Linked DNA regions of Homo sapiens: region 2 is linked to region 1. Evidence: fine-mapped expression QTL. Tissue or cell type: monocytes after R848. Region 1 holds a variant in brackets; the other region holds the start of a gene. All regions are shown on one strand. Distances are from middle to middle.

What was found. PIP is the estimated chance that this variant, and not a neighbour inherited with it, causes the effect.
Region 2: it holds the start of DUSP18, and the variant in region 1 is fine-mapped to the expression of DUSP18 in monocytes after R848 (Quach 2016, PIP 0.95). The same link has a PIP of 0.9 or more in monocytes, monocytes after LPS and monocytes after Pam3CSK4.

The regions. Positions count from the first base shown.
Region 1 is chr22:30,637,070-30,645,172 of GRCh38, forward strand. The region is part of intron 1 of SLC35E4 (solute carrier family 35 member E4); the gene reads left to right. Among named protein-coding and RNA genes, the nearest start is that of SLC35E4, 5.3 kb to the left of the region's middle. The variant C/T (reference allele first, on the strand shown) is at 4,149.
Region 2 is chr22:30,663,238-30,671,340 of GRCh38, forward strand. It overlaps DUSP18 (dual specificity phosphatase 18), which reads right to left and starts at 4,638. Exons shown (of 2, transcript NM_152511.5): 1 at 4,225-4,638; 2 at 1-843. The coding sequence starts at 766. The coding sequence ends at 200. It also overlaps a transcript of SLC35E4 not described here. RefSeq lists an enhancer at 4,736-5,125.

The DNA of each region.
Region 1 (8,103 bases):
GTAAGTGCCTGGGTGGCCAATTGAGAAGGTGGGGGTCCGGGTGGGTGCATGGCCTGGATGGCCCTGTGAGGGGTATGGCTGTTGTCCCATTTTACAAATGAGGAAACTGAGGTTCATGGCTGTGGAGGAAGCAGAACTGAGGCTCAGAGAGGGCCAACAGTTCAGTGAGTTCCAGGCCCCAGACTCAGGCTCTGGAGGCCCAACTCGTGTTTATTTGTTTATTTACTTATTTAGACAGGGTCTGGCTCTGTCACCCAGGCTGCATTGGTGAGATCTCAGCTCAATACAGCCTCCGCATCCTGGGTTCAAGTGATTCTTCTGCCTCAGCCTCCCAAGTAAGTGGGACTACAGGTGCACACCACCACGCTAAGCTAATTTTTGTATTTTTAGTAGAGACAGCATTTTACCATGTTGGCCAGGCTGATCTTGAACTCCTGACCTCCCAAGGTGCTAGGATTTCAAGCGTGAGCCACCCCACCTGGTCAGCTAATTTTTTTTTTTTATAGACACAGAGTCTTGCTATGTTGCCAAGGTAGGTCTTGAACTCCTGTCCTCAGCGATCTTCCCCCCTCAGCTTCCTGAAGTTCTGGAATTACAAACCAGTATTTAGTGATAGCCAGTGATCTGTGTTTGACTAGCCTTTTATCTCACTGTATTGTTCCCATTTGATAGATGAAGAGGCTTGCCCTGGGCCACGTGGCCAGTGAGCAGCAGAGGCAAGATCTAAACCCAGATAGTCAGACTCCATGCTTCCAAGAGATGTGGCCTGAGGCTTTGGACACAAAGGAAAGCCAGAAAGCATGGGCCAGGGAGAGAAAAGGAGGGTCTGGGATGAGCTGGGATTTGGAAGGTCAGGGGTCAGGTCTAAGTCTGGGGAGGGCTGTTGTTTACTGGGAGCTACAGTGTGACAGGCTTGGTGCTGAGTGTTGACCTTGAGTTGTCATGGCAACCACCAACTTTATCCCCATTTTACAGATGATGGGACTAAGACCCAGAGAAGTTCATGATTTGACAGGCTGGGCATGGTATCTCATGCCTGTAATCCCAGCACTTTGGGAGGCTGAGGTGGGAGGACTCTTGAGACCAGGAGTTCGAGACCACCCTGGCCAACATGGTGAAACCCTGTATCTATTAAAAATACAAAAATTGGGGCCGGGCGCGGTGTCTCATGCCTGTAATTCCAGCACTTTGGGAGGCTGAGGCGGGTGGATCATGAGGTCAGAAGTTCAAGAACAGACTAACCAAGGTGGTGAAACCCCATCTCTACTAAAAATACAAAAAAATTAACCGGGCGCCATGGCAGGTGTCTGTAATCCCAGCTACTCGGGAGGCTGAGGCAGGAGAATAGCTTGAACCCGGGTGGCAGAGGTTGCAGTGAGCCAAGATCGCCCCACTGCACTCCAGCCAAGGCGACAGAGTGAGACTCCATCTCAAAAAAAAAAAAAAAAAAAAAAAAATTGGGCCAGGCGCAGTGGCTCACAGCTGTAATCCCAGCACTTTGGGAGGCCGAGGCAAGTGGATCACCTGAGGTCAGGAGTTCGAGACCAGCCTGGCCAACATGGGGAAACCCTGTCTCTACTGAAAATACAAAAATTAGCTGAGCGTGATGGTGGGCGCCTGTAATCCCAGCTACTCAGGAGGCTGAGGTGAGAGAATCGCTTGAACCTGGGAGGCGGAGGTTGCAGTGAGCTGAGATCACGCTATTGCACTCCAGCCTGGGTAACAAGAGTGAAACTCTGTCTCAAAATTAGCCGGGCCAGGTGGCATGCACCTGTAATCCCAGCTACTGGGGAGGCTGAGGCATAAGAATTCCTTGAACCCGGGAGAAGGAGGTTGCAGTGAGCTGAGATTACACCACTGCACTCCAGCCTGGGCGACAGAATGAGACTCTGTCTCAAGAAAAAGAAAGAAGTTCAGCCCAGCGCAGTGGCTCACACCTGTAATCCCAGCACTTTGGGAGGCTGAGGTGTATTGGGGGAAATTCAGCCAGATATCGGGCGAAATTCACCCCTGATATTTCACGTAGGTTCTTTTCTGTATTACCTAAGTGTCAGCTGGTCTGAGAAATAAAGGGACAGAGTACAAAAGGGAGAAATTTTAAAGCTGGGTGTCCGGGGGAGACATCATATGTCGGCAGGTTCCGTGATGCCCCCTGAGCCATAAAACCAGCAAGTTTTGATTAGTGATTTTCAAAAGGGGAGGGAGTGTACCAATAGGATGTGGGTCACAGAGACCACGTGCTTCACAAGGTAATAGAATATCACAAGGCAAATGGAGGCAGGGCCAGATCACAGGACCATAGGACCGGGGTGAAATTAAAATTGCTAATGAAGTTTCGGGCACGCATTGTCATTGATAACATCTTATCAAGAGACAGGGTTTGAGAGCAGACAACCAGTCTGACCAAAATTTATTAGGCGGGAATTTCCTCGTCCTAATAAGCCTGGGAGCGCTATGGGAGACTGGGGCTTATTTCATCCCTACAGCTTCGACCATAAAAGATGGCCGCCCCCCAGAAGCAGCCATTTTAGAGGCCTACCCTCAGGGACGCATTCTCTTTCTCAAGGATGTCCCTTGCTGAGAAAAAGAATTCAGCAACATTTCTCCCATTTGCTTTTGAAAGAAGAGAAATATGGCTCTGTTCCACCCGGCTCACCGGCAGTCAGAGTTTAAGATTATCTCTCTTGTTCCCTGAACATTGCTGTTATCCTGTTCTTTCAAGGTGCCCAGATTTCATATTGTTCAAACACACATGCTCTACAATTTGTGCAGTTAACGCAATCATCACAGGGTCCTGAGGCGACATACAGCCTCCTCAGCTTACGAAGATGATGGGATTAAGAGATTAAAGATAGGCATAGGAAATCACAAGGGTATTGGTTGGAGAAGTGATAAGTGTCCATGAAATCTTCACAATTTATGTTCAGAGATTGCAGTAAAGACAGGCGTAAGAAATTACAAAAGTATTAATTTGGGAAACTAATAAATGTCCATGAAATCTTCACAATCCACGTTCTTCTGCAATGGCTTCAGCTGGTCCCTCCGTTTGGGGTCCCTGACTTCCCGCAACAGAGGTGGGAGGATCACGAGGTCAGGAGATCAAGACCATCCTGGCCAACGTGGTGAAACCCTGTCTACTAAAATTACAAAAATTAGCTGGGCGTGGTGGCGCCTGCCTGTAATCCCCCCTACTCGGGAACCTGAGGCAGGAGAATCACTTGAACCCAGGAGGCAGAGGTTGCAGTGAGCCGAGATCACGCCACTGCACTCCAGCCTAGGGACAGAGCTAGACTCCATCTCAAAAAAAAAAAAAAAAAGAAGAAAGAAAGAAAGAAGTTCATGATTTGCACAGAGGTCACGGGGTCCCTAATGATGTGAAGCATGGTCTATGTGACTCCAGATGCTGGCTCTGATGAAAGAGGGCAGCAGGGCTCTGGGCAGTTTAGGGCCGAGGCTCCAGGCCCAGACCCACTAGATCATTCTGCCTGAGGGCGAAGGCTGGCTTCCTGCCTTTCCTACTGAGGGGCATCTGAGTCGCAGCCTCTATCCTCTCTCTGCCTCAACCCAAGGAGACATAGGGGAGGCCAGGGTGCCCACTCAGGGTGGGGAGGCCTGGGTTCCAGCCATACCTTTGCTCATATTTGCTGGGCAACCTTGGGCATATTGGGATTTTATCTGGGCCTCAGTTTCCTCATCTGTCAGTGGAGGAGAGTTGGAGTTGATGGAGTCCAAGGGGCCTCTTGCTCTCCCTTCGCCCTGAGATCCTGTGACCCAGGCCTGGGAGAAGGAAGTGGGCACACCAAGAGTGCTGGGCTGGGATTGATGACAGCCCACAGCCAGGGAAGATTGAAGTCAGAGTTCAGCCCTGCCCTGGCGTATTCAGAGCTGACACAGAGGCCCTATCTCTATCCTCCCTGGCTCCAAGGCAGGGTCAAAACCCAGTTCTATTTTTTGCCCTCAGGTTACATGAGAGCTAGAGGCTGAGCACAGGCATGAGCTCTGGGCATGAGTCTGCACTGGGAAACCTGACCTGTGGGCACCCCTGTGCAGGCCACAGGGCTGTGAAGGTCCTAACCTCAAGGCCCATGCTGCCCCTGCTGAGAAAGAGTCAGTGCTTCTCACACTGGGACCCAGGCAGCCCCAGCCTG[C/T]AGGAGGGGCAATGGCCGGCCAGGCCTCAGGCACTTGGGCATGGAGTGGCATGTGCCTGGCATCGGGCTGCATCTTGACTCCTGCCAGCTCCCTCCTTCCCTCCCTCCCTAGTCTTAACTCCTGACCCCTGGGAGGTTGAGTCCTTGCTCTGGGCTCCTGCGGTATCCTCTGCTCCCCCTATCATGGTTCCAAATGCCATGTATGATCACCACCTGGTTACCTGTCTGCTGCCTGCCAGACAGATTTGGGGCAATTCTATGTTCCTGGAACCTAGCCCTGGGGCCTTGCAGAGGATACATAATTTGTAAATTATAATTTTTAAATTTTATTTTATTATTTTTTTTTTTGAGACAATCTCTCTCTGTCGCCCAGGCTGGAATGCAGCAGTGCAATCTCAGCTCATTGCAACCTCTGCCTCCTGGTTTCAAGCAATTCTTGTGCCTCAGCCTCCTGAGTAGCTGGGACTACAGGCTCATGCCACCGTCCTGGCTAATTTTTAATTTTTTTTTTTTTTTTTTTTTTTTTTTAGAAACAGGCTCACTATGTTGCCCAGGCTGGTCTCAAACCCCTGGCCTCAAGTGATCTTCCCTCCGGGCCTCCCAAAGTGCTGGAATTACAGGTGTGAGCCAACATGCCGACAGATTTACTGATGGCTCTGACAGGCGAGCTGATCTCATAGACTGGTTGGGCTGCCTGATTCAGGAGGGAGTTTAGGGGGCTAGAGGCCCCACTAACAGAGATAGGAGCCCTGCAGAGATGGGGAGGAACAGACTTGAGCCAGGGCCTGAGATAGGCTTTTTTTGCTTGTTTGTTTGTTTGTTTATGAGAGGGTCTTGCTCTGTCATCCAGGCTGGAGTGCAGTGGCTCACTGCGGCCTCAATTTCCCAGGCTCGGGCAATCCTCCCACCTCAGCCTCCCGAGTAGCTAGGACTATAGGCGTGCCTCCATGCCCAGCTAATTTTTGTATTTTTTGTAGAAATGGGGTTTCATCATGTTGCCCAGGCTGGTCTCCAACTCCTAGACTCAAGTGATTTACCCACCTCGGCCTAAAGTGCTGGGATTACGGGCATGAGCCACCACACCCAGCCTGAGATAGGTTTTGAACAAAAGGTTTCTACTGCAGGAGGCTCCAGGAGAGGCACCAGGGCCAGATTCAGACGTGAGTGTACGTGGCTGATGCCAGCTCCATTCCTGAGAGCAGAGTTTGTGGGAGCAGAGGGCAAGTATCCAGAAAGAAGGCTGGGCATGGTGGCTCACGCCTGTAATCCCAGCACTTTGGGAAGCCAAGGCAGGCAGCTCACTTGAGGTCAGGAGTTCGAGACCAGCCTGGCCAGCATGGTGAATCCCCGTCTCTACTAAAAATACAAAAAAAATTAGCTGGGCATGCTGGTGCATGCCTGTCATCCCAGCTACTCGGGAGGCTGAGGTAGGAGAATCTCTTGAACCAGGGAGGCGGAGGTTGCAGTGAGCCGAGATATCACACCATTGCACTCTAGCCTGGGCAACATCTCAAAAAAAAAAAAAAAAAAGGCCAGGCACGGTGGTTCACACCTGTAATCCCAGCACTTTGGGAGGCCAAGGTGGGTGGATCATGAGGTCAGGAGATTGAGACCATCCTGGCTAACACAGTGAAACCCCGTCTCTACTAAAAAATACAAAAAAATAGCCAGGTGTGGTGGTGGGCACCTGTAGTCCCAGCTAGTCGGGAGGCTGAGGCAGGAGAATGGCGTGAACCCGGGAGGCGGAGCTTGCAGTGAGCCCAGATAGCGCTACTACACTCCAGCCTGGGCGACAGAGTGAGACTCCGTCTCAAAAAAAAAAAAAAAAAAGTATCCAGAAAGAGGAGAGCCCAGGCAGCTGTTGGCAGGGCCAGCGACTTCCCTCCTTCTTGGGCCAGTTGTAGGCCCAGGGAGCCTGCACAAGGAGAGGGGTTATGCCATCCTCCTACCCACAGAAAGGGTGGGAAGTGGGGCGCCAGCCTGCTGAGCTTGCTCTCAGCTGGACTCCCCCGCCCGTCCGCATCACAGAGCAGGCGGACTCAACCCCTCTGAGCTCTCAGGCTGATGGGGGAGATGCACTCAGATATAGAGATCATGATGGCAGAAAAGAAGTTCTAGAGTCAAAGTGGTCACACGTGTTGGGGAGCGGTTGCTTCTTCCTGGGGAGCGCTGAGAAGGCTATCTAGGGGAAGAGACATGCAATGATGATGACAATAATGTAACCATGAGAGCAAACATTTGTTGGGGCCTCCCTAGGTGCCCACACCATGCCCAGCTCTTCATACTGAAGGAGGAGGAAAGGGTGATCTGGGAATGGGAAACAGGCCGTGCCAGGGCACAGGGTGTCAGCCAGCAGGAGCAGGGTGTGGGGATCATGCCAGCTGCCGGGGTGAGCCGGCATCAAGGACATCACACAGGGCATCAGGCCCTGTGTTCAGCACCTCACATGTGAGGGGGCTGTTGCTACCCGAGCCACACGACTTAAGGAGACTGAGGCGTGGAGAGAGGGAGACAGTATCACACAGCCCGTGAAAGAGCAAAAGGGCCAAGCCAATAGCAAGCAGACAGGGTTTAGAGAAGGGTCAGCTGTTGTCTGCATGTGGCAGAAACTTGGGCATGTTCCAATAGAAGGAGAGGTGGCAATGAGGCAGGACAAACAGGCTGACATTTTGGGGTCCCCAGGTAGAAGCCAGTCACCGCCTCTGACAGCGAATGGCTGCCCTTTCCCTGGGCTGCAGGGAGGGGAGGTGGAGGATTGGGTGGGATGTACAATAGGTGTGAGGAGATGGGTGGGAAGTTTAGGACCTTCCTGCCTGGCTGCCTTGCAGAGGGTGAAATTTACCAAAGGTGAAGTTCACCTGAAAACCCAACCGCCTTCTTGTGATGGGACGTTTAATGTGCAAGCCACAGGTAGCTCATAACACTGTTAACTTTCGAGCCTGCGAGCAGGAGGCATTCTGATTATCTGTTCATTTCTAGAAACGCTTGAGCCAGAGGGACTGTTTGTTGCCTAGAGAACAAAGCTAAAACATCGGAATGAAATTGAGAGAGAAATAAAATTTCCTATTCTAAGCATAGCCTATGAGTAAGCATCTCTGTGGCTTTTTGGAAAGTGTGTGTCAGAAAATGCATAGAGGCTCACAGAGGCCTGGGAGGGGACCTGTGTCGACTACTCATCTCTCTCCACTAACTTGGCAAAGGCCCCATGCCATCATTGCCCTCATGCAAATAATGTCATTTCAGCCAGGCGCAATGGCTCACACCTGTAATCCCAGCACTTTGGGAGGCCAAGCTGAGCAGATTGCTTGAGTCTAGGAGTTTGAGACCAGCCTGGGTGAACCAGATGACGAAACCCCATCTCTACAAAAAATACAAAAATTTTCAGGGGTGATGGTGCATGCCTGTAGCCCCAGCTACTTGGGAGGCTGAGAAGGGAGGATCGCTTGAGCTCGGAAGGCAGTAAACTGACATCGTACCACTACACTCCAGCCTGGGCAAGAGAACCAGACCCTGTCTCAAATAATAATAATAATGTCATTTCGCCTGGGCAAGAGAACCAGACCCTGTCTCAAATAATAATAATAATGTCATTTCGCCTGGGCACCCCTTTGTGAATTGGCTGGTGGTGGCATGTGTACACGTAGGTACACACAGATACACAGTCACACATAGGCAAAGCAGCAAGATCCCCTCCTGCCTTACAAAGTGAAAAGGTTTCCTCTTAGTCCTGGATTCATCTTGACAAGCCACAGTATTAGCAGGAAAAAAAAAAGATGCTGATTATCAGTTATAAACAGTGAGTGAGAGCCAAGATCCCACAATGACCTTTTGTCCCCTTGTCACTCCAGTGGTCATAAGTGAATGAGGCAATGAATGGGTCACACTTTTGACCCAATTTATTATTTTCTTTTATAAACTCTTCTTTTTTAATGCAAAGGCCCCCATGTGGCTAGTA
Region 2 (8,103 bases), 26 kb after region 1:
CACCATCTCACAATTAGTTTAATCTTAAAAAAAATGGATTATAAAGTTAAAAGCTACAGCAACTCTTTTTTGTGCTCATAAAAGGCATCATCTGTTTTTTTCTGTATCAACAAAAGTAGAATGTTCAAGTTTGGATCTTGGTGTAAGATCAACAATAGATCTGTACCTCTGACTCCAATGCAGGGGCTCGTGGGATGGCTCACAGTGGAATCATCAAACGGACTTCCTTCTCATAGATGTCAGGGATCATTCCCACTGGGGAACTGACCATGTGCACAGTGTTCTTGCCAAACAATTGGAACTCATAGTGGATGAGCTGCTCCCAAAAGCCGCTGTTGGGTCGGATGATGGGCCGGCATGACTTGGTCCACGTGTGGGCGTCCAGCAGGGACATGGCGTGGTACTTCATGAGGTAGGCGAGGCACAGGGCAGCTGAGCGGCTCACACCAGCAGCACAGTGCAGCAAAGTACGGCCCTGCTTCATCTCCACGCTGTGGATATGGTCAGCAATAGGGTCAAAGAAGTCACAGAGACGTGAGTTAGGGGAGTCAGCCACAGGTACCTGCATGTACTGGATATCCTCATACAAGGTGTTCACTACCTCCACTGAGACATTGATGACCATGGTGATCTGGTTGCTAGACAGCATGAGCTTGTTGTTGGCGGCCACACCATTGCTGATATACAGGCTTTTGGTTATCTGCGAGAGGCCGCTGACTGAGGGCTGCCGGAACTGAACTGGGAAGGCACACGAGGGTGCTGTCATCAAGGCGGTGGGTCAGTGGTCAGCAGTCAGCGAAGCACGAAGGCTGCGTCTTTCTGCTAGGCTGTGTCCATGGAAAACTGCAGAGAGGGAGAGGATGTTTAGAGGGCAGGTGCCCAGAGGGCCAATTCCAGGGGATCCCTGGGAAATGGATGGATAGGCTTATAGCATTCCCCAAGGCAGTCCTCTGACCATCACAGCAGAACTACCCAGCAAACTCATTTAAAGTACAGATACCCAGGTCCCTCTCCAAACCCACAGTCAGACTCTCGGGGTGAAGAGCATGAATCTGCATTTTCAGCATGCTTCTCAGGTGGTCTAATGTGCACTGCCCTATAGGACAAATGGCAAGTCCCCAAGTCTGGCACTTGAGGCCTCCCTTGAGGGGTCCCACAGCTCTAGTTGGGCAGATGACTTGTGTCCCTCAGCTGTGCCTTGGCCTGATTCTCCATTTAAGCTCACAGAGCCCTTTTCTTGCTGCTCTTCCAAATTCTCTCCTTCCTTCCAGCCCCTCTGAGTGGGAACCATTTGTACAGTCTTCCTCCTCAGTCTTCTGACTTTATGCCCAAATCATAAGGTCCTGAGCCAGTGGCATGGAACCAGAGCCCACTGTGCTGGCAGTCACTGAGGAGGCTGGTATAAGAGTAGGGAGGGTTCCCATTTTCCCCCTCTAAGAACCATCTCTTTAAAGAGACAGGATATGCCCATGCGAAGCTGATGTCAAATACAAAGTCCTAAATTGTTAGACATGCTCCTGCACCTTGCCTCTGAAGAAGGCCTGGGAAAGGGAGTGGCTGAAAGCTTCCTGGAAGCCAGCATAATGGGCACCACAGCAACCCCAGGGACAAGCACAGAGACAGCAGGGCCTTAGGAAGACCTGCCACACCTGCATCATGCTGCCTGCAGCAGAGCTGTGAAACACACCCCAGGGAGAGGCAGACCCCTTCCCTTCACCTGCTCGATAGGCTCAGTCGCCGCTAAGTAATTGGGGTAGAGGTTCAGCCGCAGATCTGCTTCCCGCGCCGCAGACCGTGCAGTCGTCGGTGCTCCTCAGGTGCGGCCTGGGTGCCCAGAGCATTCATTAGACTCTCGGACCCTCACTTTCTCAGTCTTAAACAAAGCTGCAAAAACCAGGACATCTTTATACATTCCGCTGAAATAGGGACATTTGGATTTAGATCACACCTTTCAAGGCCAAGTGGCAGTCTTCACCAGGCACGAGAAATGAGGAGCCAAAGTTTTGTTTCCCTGCTTAATATATTTCAGTGGCTATCCACTGTGAGGATAAGATGGAGCCACTTAGTTTGGCTGTCAAGGCCATTTGTGACCTGGCTCCTGCCTGTCTCTCCAGCCTCTTATTAGGCTTCTCCATGCTCTGAAGGGCCTCAGGTGAACCGAGCCACTTACAGTTCCTTAGGGACAACCTGTCCTCTCCAGCCAGTGGCCTTTGCCCCTGCTGATCTCTCAGTCTCTTTCCTTATGAACCCATCAGATCCTGATCTGGTCCATTCAGCAGAGGACTGCAGAAGTCTGAGGAGCCTTAAGATATCAACTTAAAGGTAACTGTTTTAAGGGAAATCTCCTTAGATCACACCCCTCCCTCACGTTTGACCAACTCTGCTCCAGGCTTTCTTAGCCCTATGTTCTCTCCTTCCTAACACTTACTGAAGACGTAGTTTTGCTCCGATCTGTCTGATTATTTGATTAATGTCTGTCTCCCCAAGAGACTGTGAGCCCTTTAGGGATATGATGGTGTCTGTCTTCACTCCCACTCTATCACCAACTAGTGCCAAGCGCTGTGTCCCCACAAGTAGGTGCTTGATAAATATTTGTTGAATGAAGAAATGACTCCCAACAGCTATGACTCTGCCTTCTGAGAGGTTTTCTGGAAAGAATGAGTTCTCTGGCAGCGTGTCTCCAGAATTCCAGGGAGGGGCTGGGTGGGGATGGGGGTGGTTCTGAGGCTACTAAAGAGAAAGACCAAAGGTTGTATAGGCAAATCCTACCTGCCAATGCCCCAGACTCAAATGCATCAGGCTCATTCCCGGAAGGACAGAGAGGGCTGGCTTGCTACAGAGGTGATATGAAGGGCAAAGAAAAAGCCTCCTGAACCCAGATGGAAGTCTAAATGCTAAGGAATGTTCTGGATCCTCGTCATCAGAAAATCCATAGAGAAGTGAACTGATGTCCCCCCAAACCAGTGCCCAGTGGGTAACGGGAATAGAGGAATGTGCTGTTCATTATAGCCACTAAAAGTCTGCAGAAGTGACAATGCTCTTGCAGGTGAGGGTAGTGATGCGAGGAGTCATTTTCATGCTAGTTAAGAAATATCTATCAGGGCTGGGCACGGTGGCTTAAGCCTATAATCCCAGCACTTTGGAAGGCCGAGGCGGGCAGATCACCTGAGGTCAGGAGTTCAAGACCAGCCTGACCAACATGGTGAAACCCCCGTCTCTACTAAAAATACAAAAATTAGCCAGGCGTGGTGGCATGGGCCTGTAGTCCCAGCTACTCAGGAGGCTGAGACGGGAGAATTGCTTGAACCCGGGAGGCGGAGGCTGCAGTGAGCCAAGATCGTGCCACTGCACTCCAGCCTGGGAGACAGCGTGAGACTCCATCTCAAAAAAAAAAAAAAAAAAAAAAAAAGCAATCTCTATCAGGCACTGTATTAGGTGTTGGAGATACTGAAATGTACAAGACAGGCATGGCCCCTTTTCTCAGGGAGCTCAAAGACTAGTGGGAGAAACAGATAGTAAACAGGCAATTACAGGCAGACAGAGCTTGAAAATAGGATAACAGTACCTACCTTAAAAGGATGTTGTGAAATTAAACGAGATAATCCACGTAAAGAGTTTTCTCAGGGCTTGGCATAGAGTAAGCCCTCTCAAAATGATAACTATTTTTCTCGCTTCTGATAGGGAAGTTAAAATGCAGGGCTCTGTGAAAGGGAAGTGTAAAAAAGATTTCTTCCAGGTCGGAGCCTAGGGAGTCGCAAAGACCACCTGAAGAAATCACAAAAGATCTAAAGAACGTTTAGCTTGAGAGGGAGGAGGAGAAAAAAATAGCAACTCGGTAGCAGTTCAGCTTCACCACTTTACAGCCTATGAAGTATTTGGCTTCCCTCATCTGGTTCGATCTTCAAAGCAACCTAATCAGACCGGCGTCTAGAGTTAATATTTCCATTTTACAAAAGAGGAAAGTGAGACACAGCGCGGAAAAGGACTTGTTCAGAACGAGTCATAAAGCAAAGAAGCCGACCTTTATGGTCCATTATGTGTGGGAAAAATGAACAAACACCGCGGGGCGTTCGTGAAATACTAAGTTATAAACATGGAACAAAGTCCAAGAGTTAACGAGAGCGAAGCATCACTTCTAGGGGTGGGCCGGGTAGGTTTCCTAGGGGAGCTGGCATTGGAATAGGCTTCTTCGCCTGCTTAGTGTCAGGACCCCCAGGGTTTTACCTCTCTCCTTCAGGCGGGTGGGCGGGTTCGCTCAGGAAGTAGCCGCTTGGGGAAGCCTTAGGCAAGGTTCTTCGGGAGAGAGACCCGTCATGATCCCGCAGCCTCAATCCCCGCTGGCCTAACGCTTTGGTTTCCATAGCAATGGGCTCGTCGCAGAAAGGAATAGCCTGTGCCGGGTCTTCAGAGAAATCCTGGCCTCGGCTCCACGCCCCTGAGCAGCCCCACCCTGGCTCAACCTGTTACCCGCCCTGCCGGCAAGCCGGGGTCACTGCAGTCCCCGTGGCGAAGCAGGGTCAGCTCAGCTCACCGCACCCCACTCCATCCAGCCCTGCCCATCTCTACGGCAACGGGCCGGGTCGCACCAGGGCTGCAGCCGAGAGACAGTCTCACCGCTTCCGTAGCCGCCCGGGCTCTGTGCGCATGTGCGACACTCCCTCCCCGGCCCCGCCCCCTTATGCGTCTCCCAGGCAACGCGCCGCGCGGGGCTCCAGGTTCCGCCCAGGGACTAACTCCAGGTCTGCGCGCGTCCAACGAGCACGGCTCTCAACCGGCCTCCTGGCGCCCAACGACCATGGCTTCCAACCGGCCTCCGTGCGCCCAACGACCATGACTCCCAACCGGCCTCCAGTTTCCAACTGTTTCTCGAACAGGGAAGCCGCCATGACACAGCTGACTACGCCCTTGGTCACAGGGGACCTGAGATCCTCCACGATTTACGGGACCGGCGCCACCTCGGGCTCGAACCACCCTCTCGATAGGGCCGCCGCTAAGTAATCGGCGTAGGGGTTCAGCCGCACATCTCCTTCCCGCGCCGCGGACCGAGCAGTCGTTGGTGCTCTTCAGGTGCGGCCTGGGTGCCCAGAGCCTTCGTTAGACTCTCGGACCCGCAAGGGAGCCCGAACTCTTTCAGACTCGCTCTCCCTCAGCCGGACCTCGGCCCTTTTTCACACCCCAGGGGAGTCTGGATTTCTCATAGTCCTGGGCACCAGCCCCTTCCCAGTCTAGCTCTTGGGACTCCCTGAAGCCGGAACTCCCTCGCCTGGACTCCCGGGAGAACCTGGAATCCCCATCTCCAGTCCACATTTTCTCAGAATCTGTCCTAGCCCTTCAGTCTCCCAGGCATGACATCGTGTGGTCCCAGCGCCCTAGGTGGTGAGCTGTGACTCTCCTTAGAGCCTGGCGAGGCCGAGGTCCTCCCCAGCTCGAACCCATCCCACACTCCCCTTCTCAGCCTCTGTGTTCCCCAGTGGTCCTGGAAAAGCCCCCAGTTCCCTCTGCCTGGCCCCAATCCTCACAAACCCAATTACCCACGCTCCTTTCCATTCCATAACCCCCATCACTGCATCCTCCAGGCTCCCATCCATGGAGGACTTGAGGTGGAAAGCAATTTGGTTCAAAATAACCATTATTTATTACTTGAAAGGGAATATTTCCAGTCGTTGCCAGCCTCCTCCCCTTCTAGTATTGGTAAATTTTTTGCACCACTGAGTGGGTGAAGAGTTTTATGCGTCTTTAAATGTTTTAAGGATTTTTTTAAAAAAACAAAAAACTCTCAGGATTTGGGGGACTTTTGTGTTTGAGCATCTTGATCTCTAAACCAGCTTTTTCCATCACCTCACACCTAGGCTATGCATAGAGGTCAGAAAAATGTAAATGAGAGATTGAGAAGTTGGATTGTTCATACTAGTTTGTAAATATGAAAACATTCACAACACTCCAGTTCCAAATAGGCTGAAAATGCATTAGAAAAACTAGTCCTTCAATATTTTTTATCCTTCTACAGTTGTCTTTTTTGACCCAATTATAAAAGTAGTGTACACTTATAGAAAAATGAGGACAGGCATGGTGGCTCACGCTTGTATTCCCACCACTTCACTTTGAAACGCTGAGGCAGTTGGATCACCTGAGCTCAGGAGTTCGAGACCAGCCTGGGCAACAGGGTGAAACCCCATCTCTACCAAAAATACAAAAAATTAGCCGGGCTTGGTGGCTCACCTGTGGTCCCAGTTACTCAGGAGGCTGAGGTGGGAGGATCACTTGAGCCTGGGATGTGGAGGTTGCAGTGAGCTGAGATTGTGCCACTACTCTCCAACCTGGGGGACAGAGTGAGACCCCGTCTCGAAGAAATAAAAAGAAGACAAGACAGGCCAGCAGCATAAGTGGCTAGGGACAATCACTGTTAACATTTTGGTGTATTTTGATCAGAATCCATTCATATATATATATATATATATATATATATATGTTACAACATGCTTATACTTAAAAAAGATACATCACAAAAGTTCACTTTTTAGTAACCTGCTTTTTTCTCCCATCTAATATACCACCCGTCTATGTTTCATACACAATTACATGTATTTTATTTTATGACATACCAAAATTTATTCAATTGCTTCCATACTGTAGATTTTGTTTCCGCATTTTAGAAAGAAAATATGAACAATTTTTTTTTTGAGACAGAGTCTAGCTCTGTGGCCCAGGCCCGAGTGCAGTGGCACAGTCTTGGCTCACTGCAACCTCTGCCTCCTGGGTTCCAGTGATTCTCCTGCCTTAGCCTCCTGATTAGCTGGGATTACAGGTGCTCACCACTACACCCGGCTAATTTTTGTATTTTTAGTAGAGATGGGGTTTCACCATGTTGGCCAGGCTGGTCTCGAACTCCTGACCTCAAGTGATCTGCCCACCTTGGCCTCCCAAAGTGCTGGGATTATAGGCCTCAGCCACTGTGCCTGATCCTGAAGAATTATTTTTAAATGGGCAAAACCATTTAAAGGTATTTATTTGTAAGACTACTTCATGGTGTAACCAAATTATCAAAAAGTGAAAATGCAGTGCTTAGAAGTATATCCACTCTTCAGCATTTCCTCATTTTGACCAGATTGTTATATTTTCACCTGGAGTACCTAGCTCCATTCTACCCCACCCCACCCCATGTTTCACCTCACCTTTCAGAGTCTCCTAAAACCCCTGTCCACCCCACACCTCCCTATTCTAAATTTTCCCCAAACCTTCTTCTGGAATTCCCCTATTAACCAGCCTAACATCTGTCCAAACTCTTACTTTTATTTCTCCCTGCTCTGATCTATACTCCCCCAAGCCCCCGCCTCCCAGATCCCCTTTAGGCACAGGGTCTAGAGCAAGTGCTCCCCAAGCTAAACACCTCTCAAATTCATCCTTCGAACCCTACTCTACAACTTTTACTCCTCCCCTCTAAGACCCCTCTCTCCCATTTCATCCTTAAGAAGGATCATCAAGATGACTGCTTTTGGCTGGGTGGGCATGGTGGCTCTCACGCATGTAATCCTACCACTTTGGGAGCCCAAGGCAGGCATATCTCTTGAGGTCAGGAGTTCGAGACTAGCCTGGCCAACATGGTGAAACCCCGTCTCTACTAAAAATACAAAAATTAGCCAGGTGTGGTGGCGCATGCCTGTAATCCTAGCTGCTCGGGAGGCTGAGGCAGGAGAATCGCTTGAACCCGGGAGGTGGAGGTTGCAGTGAGCCGAGATTGTGCCACTGCATTCCAGCCTGGGAGACAGAATGAAACTCCATCTCAAAAAAACAAAAGACTGCTTTGGAAGATGGTTCTGAGTTCCTGATAACCCTTCTCTTGTGGACTGCACTGGGGCCCTTTTACAAACACAGAATTGCTTTTCTTCTGGGTGTCCATGAAACACCCCTTTAGCATATCTTTCCACAAGAAGAAACTGTGGTTACTCCCTTGCTTCTCTGAAAATTGTAACAGAGCTGCACTTGTCCTAAGATACCCGGGGAAGCCTCAGCCACTCCCCCAGGACCCTGTCAAATCTGCTCTGGCCCTGGCCTCAGCCATCTGTAACCTGTGTCACCTTTCCCTCCCCGCTCCAGCTTAATGAT